2 separate regions of the Homo sapiens genome follow, and region 1 is linked to region 2. The links come from fine-mapping of genetic effects on gene expression. Tissue or cell type: whole blood. Region 2 holds a variant in brackets; the other region holds the start of a gene. All regions are shown on one strand. Distances are from middle to middle.

The links. PIP is the estimated chance that this variant, and not a neighbour inherited with it, causes the effect.
Region 1: it holds the start of LINC00639, and the variant in region 2 is fine-mapped to the expression of LINC00639 in whole blood (TOPMed, PIP above 0.99).

Annotation. Positions count from the first base shown.
Region 1 is chr14:38,915,565-38,918,333 of GRCh38, reverse strand. It overlaps LINC00639 (long intergenic non-protein coding RNA 639), which reads left to right and starts at 1,452. Exons shown (of 5, transcript NR_039982.1): 1 at 1,452-1,552. All of the region lies in intron 4 of LOC105370457 (a long non-coding RNA gene), which reads right to left.
Region 2 is chr14:38,827,218-38,829,986 of GRCh38, reverse strand. All of the region lies in intron 4 of LINC00639 (long intergenic non-protein coding RNA 639), which reads left to right. Among named protein-coding and RNA genes, the nearest start is that of LINC00639, 88 kb to the left of the region's middle. The variant C/T (reference allele first, on the strand shown) is at 1,076.

The sequences.
Region 1 (2,769 bases), 88 kb before region 2:
TTTCCTCTGTTCCTTTCTTTTCTTTTCTTTTTTTTTGTTATACTTTAAGTTCTAGGGTACATGTGCACAATGTGCAGGTTTGTTACATATGTATACATGTGCCATGTTGGTGTGCTGCACTGGTTAACTTGTCATTTACATTATACTACAGGGCTACAGTAACCAAAACAGCATAGTACTGGCATAAAAACAGACACATAGACTAATGAAACACAATAGAGAACCCAGAAACAAACTCATACATCTACAGTAAACTTGTTTTCAACAAAGGTACCGAGAATATATGTTGGAGAAAAGGCAGTCTCTTCAATAAGTGGGGCTTGGAAAACTGGATATCCATAGGCAGAAGAATGAAACTAGACCCCTATCTCTTGCCATATACAAAAGTCAAATTAAAATTGATTAAAGACTTAAATCTAAGACCACAAGCCATGAAATTACTAAAAGAAAATAGCCTACCTCAGCTTCCCACATGCTAGGATTATAAGCATGAGCCACTGTGCCCAGTGATACAACATTTATGACTGCAAAGTAACTCATCTCCCCTTTGCAGTTAACAGCACTTTGTGGGGAGATAATTTGAGACCATGTTGGTTGTCATCAAACCTTCACTCAGATTCAGCATCATTTGATGCTTTCTTCTTCAATCAACTACTACTATAATAGTTGCCAAATAATGACCTTCCAATTCTACCTTTCCTTCTGCATACAGTAATTAGCATTCTTATGTAAGGAATAATTATTTGTTTGTTTATGTAATTTGAACTCATGAATTCCTAGTTTATTTAATGGGCTATAATCTGCTATTATCATTTGTTTATTTTTTAAAAGTTTTATTTTAAGTCCAGGGGTATAAATGCAGGTTTGTTACATAGGTAAACTTGTGTCATGGGAGTTTGTTGTACAGATTTTGTCACCCAGATCTTAAGCCTAATACCCATTAGTTATTTAATTATTAGTTATTTTTCCTGATTGTCTTCCTTCTCCCACCCTCCAGCCTCTGAAAGGCCCCAGTGTGTGTTGTTCCTCTCTGTGTGTCCATGTGTTCTCATCATTTAGCTCCCACTTATAAATGAGAACAGGCAGTATTTGGTTTTCTGTTCCTGTATTAGTTTGCTAAGGATAGTGGCCTCCAGTTCCATCTGTGTTCTTGCAAAGGACATATCTCTTTCTTTTTTATTACTGCATAGTATTCCATGGTGTATATTGATCACATTTTCTTCATCCAGTCTACTGTTGGTGGACATATAGGTTGATTCCATGTGATATGGTTTGTCTCTGTGCCTCCACCCAAATCTCATCTTATAGCTCCTATAATTCCCATGTATTGTGGGAGGGACCCAGTGGGAGATAATCAAATCATGGGGGTGGGTATTTCCCATACTGTTCTCATGATAGTGATGGGTCTTACGAGATTTGACAGTTTTAAAAACAGGAATTTTCCTGAACAGGGTCATTTTTTTTTTTTTGCCTGCTGCCATCCATGTAAGATGTGATTTGCTGCTCCTTGCCTTCTGCCATAATTGTGAAGCCTCCCCAGCTATGTGGAACTGTAAGTCCAATAAACCTCTTTCTTTTGTAAATTGCCCAGTCTTGTGTATGTCTTTATCAGCAGCAAGAAAATGGACTAATAGAGTAAATTGGTAGCAGTAGAGTGGTGTGCTGCTGAAAAGATACCTGAAAATGTGGAAGTGACTTTGGAACTCGGTAACAGGCAGAGGCTGGAATGGTTTGGAGGGCTCAGAAAAAGACAGGAAAATGTGGGAAGGTTTGGAACTTCTTAGAGACTTGTTGAATGGCTTTGACCAAAAGCCTGATAGCAATATGGACAATAAGGTCTTGGCCGAGGCTGTTTCAGATAGAGATGAGGAACTTGTTGGGAACTGGAACAAAGGTGACTCTTGTTATGTTTTGGCAAAGAGACTGGTGGTATTTTGCCCCTGCCCAAGAAATCTGTGGAACTTTGAACTTGAGAGAGATGATTTAGGGTATCTGACTGAAGAAATTTCTAAGCAGCAAAGCATTCAAGAGGTGACTTGTGTGCTGTTAAAGGCATTCAGTTTTATAAGGGAAGCAGAGCATAAAAATTCGGGAAATTTGCAACCTGATAATTTGATAGAAAAAGAAAACCGGTTTCCTGAGGAGAAATTGAAGCTGGCTGTAGAAATTTGCATAAGTAATGAGGAGCCAAATGTTAATCCCCAAGACAATGGGAAAAATGTCTCCAAGGCATATCAGAGGTCTTCATGGCGGCCCCTCCCATTACAGGCCCAGAGGCCTAGGAGAAAATGCTCTCGTGGGCCAGCCCCATGGTCCCTGTGCTGTGTGCAGTCTAGGGACTTGGTGCCCTGTGTCCCAGCCACTCCAGCCCTGACTAAAAGGGGCCATGGTACAGCTTGGGCTGTTGCTTCAAAGGGTGGAAGCACCAAGCCTTGGTAGCTTCCATGTGGTCTTGAGCCTGTGGGTGCCCAGAAGTCAAGAACTGAGGTTTGAGACCCCCTGCCTAGACTTCAGAAGATGTATGGAAATGGTACCAGCTCTTCTTTTTCTTTCTTCTTCTTCTTCTTCTTTTTTTTTTTTTTTGAGACAGTGTCTCACTTTGTCAACCAGTCTGGTCACAAACTCCTGCCTGGCCCCCCCAAGTAGTTGAGACTATAGGCATACACAACCATGCTCTACTAATTTTTTGTATTATTTGTAGAGATGGGGTTTTGCCATGTTGCCCAGGATGGTCACAAACTCCTGAGCTCAAGTGATCTGTCCACCTTG
Region 2 (2,769 bases):
CAAAATTATAATATCTCTTATCTGTTGTTATCCCCTTTACTATTCTGTTATTATTCTGGTGATATTTTAGGATGGAATAGAATAAAGCAGGTATATTTAAACTACCATGTTTGATGAGTAGCCTCACTAGGAAGTTGCAAAGACATTGTTACATTGAAAGCCTCAAGGATTCCACACTTGAGAATAGATGGTTCAACTGTTTTTGATGCCAGTAGAGTAGGGATCTTACCACCCTTTGTTCATTTCATCCCACACAGTACAGATGTACCAATAATTCTTCCTACCTGCCAGATATGCTGATAATTTTCCTTACCCACCAGATGTCCACAGTCCCACCTCCCTTTCTTGGAGTACATTAGCACAAGCTGATGAGGTTTAAGGAAAATAGTCCACACAGGGCAATCAGTGGTTGAGGTGCTGGATGATAACGAAGTGAAGTTCTGAGCATGTAGGTCAATAAGAACAATTGGTGTCATTGCTGGGCACACAAAATGGGACATTCTTGCTGAGAGTAAGGGCTGGGCATTCTGCCTGAGCAACTCACTTTCTAGTCAGCTTCTGGGCTTAATGGTCCTTTGTCAGTTACTCTTTCAACTCCTATCAGGCTGTGGCCCTTTACCTTCCTTGAACAACTTCCTAAGGACTACTTCCAGACTTTGTAGGTTGCCTTGTACTCACTGCCCCATTTCTATTGCTCCTTGTCCATTTCTTCTGTTTATCTAGGGGAACTCTTTGTTTCTCTAAGGGGTACATCCTTATTTCTACTGTCTTCTCAAATTCAATCATCTTGTTCTTTAGCATTTGATTTATTGGCTCATTAAACTTGGAACCCAAATTACTAGCAACCTCAAAACAAGTTTTCTTTCTAGGTTACTGGTCTAATGTTTAACTTATTTTAGGTAACTGACCTAATGTTTAAATATATAAATTCTATTGCACCAAAAAAGGGAAGAAAAACCACCAGTCAGACCTCCATCTTGAAACAGTCCAATGTTTATATGTTGTCATGGACCTTTGATGACTTAAAATTGTGTCTCCGTCCAAGTCATTTGGAACTCTTGAAATAGTCAGCTAG[C/T]CAAAAGTTATTTTTAAGTGCTAATTTTGTGCCAGCTTTTGGAAAAACAAAAGTAAATAGGAAGGAAAAGATTTCTTGCTCAAGAAGAACAAGAGTTCTAGTTTGAGAGTTAGGCAATGAGCATCTAAACCAAAAATGTATGTAAGAGTACGAGAGAGTTAGGTTTCAAAGATGGTAGTCTCTAGAGCAAGATTATGGGCTAGAGATCTTAGGAAGTGCAGAAACGTCAAAAAGAGGAAGAATAGCAGCATATTCAGAAGGTGAACCCTGTAACTTGGGAAATCCAGCTGAAACCACAGATGCTGATTTCCTATTTGAACTGAACCTGTCTTTTTTCTTTTGAGACAGGCTCTTATCTCTGTCACCCAGGCTGGAGTGCAGTGGCACAATCATGGCTCACTGCAGCCTTGATCTTCTGGGCTCAGATGATCCTCTCACCTCAGCCTCTCAAGTAGCTGGGATGACAGGCATGTGCCACCACCCCTAGCTAAGTGTTTTGTAGAGATGGGGTTTCACCATGTTGCCCAAGCTGATCTTTAACTCCTGGGCTCAAGTGGTTCACCCACTTCAGCCTCCCAAAGTGCTGGGATTACAGACACGAACTCTCATGCTCGCCTTGTTGTTTCTTAAAAAAATCACATTGCTGAGCATAAGAGGAAAAATTGAATCTTTTTCCTATAATAAATCAATCGCTGGTAAAACTTAAAATGAAGAGCTAAAAGTTCTTCCAGATAACACATAAATGTCTTTGCAGGAAAGTATCTCACTATCAAATCAATCTATGCAGTTAGGCCAGGTAATTCTCCTTTCTAAGCTGATTTTGTGGCTGAACTTTTATTGTATATTGAAGGTGATAAGTAAGATAAAGGAAAGACAGTTTGGATGAGGATAGCATTCAGCATTGTGTTCAGTTTATGCAGTTAGATTTTTTTTTCTATTTTGAAATCTTATTTATTCTTTCAAAATGCTTTTTAGGAAAACATTTGAAATAGATGTTTTTATTATCCAAGGCGCTTGTGATGTGGCAGGTTTTCTAACTGTGGTCAGATTCAGATGGTGAATAGTTCTTCATAATAACACTGATGTTTGGTGTGCCAGTTTCTTTTTATGTAGTTATAATGGATATCGTTTTTGTTCATTTTCCCCTTGTTTCCCTCATCCTATGGTATTTTTTACCATTCACCTCCCAGTATAGTATGAAAAAAATTATCTCCTGAATCACCTGTGTCTCTCAACAGGTCAGTTACGATTTGGTCAACTTGGAAACTATCCATAGAGCTAACCTGAATGCTTTGGGCCAGTAACTCCACTTAGTTCTCAACTGCAATGAGGGATTTCTATTTGATTGAAGTGTGGAGGAAAGGCTCCGAGCCAGGGGGAACACAATTGCTGACAGACTGGCATGATAAAGGCCCTAATGAATGCACTTTATAGAGCACAAAGGTAGTGTCTTTTTTGAGTCAAAATTTGGAGTCTGACTCAGTTCATATCCAGTCTCTGTCACTTGCCAGTTGTGTGACTTTGAGCAAGTCCTTGCTGAACCTCGATTTCTTCATCTGTAAAACAGACACCTTAATGTATCTGCTTTACAATGATGCTATACTCTTTAAATAAGGTTATATGCAAGATACTGAATATATATAATAGCACAAAATAGGTGCATGATAAGTTAAAGACAAAAATAGAGAGCTGTA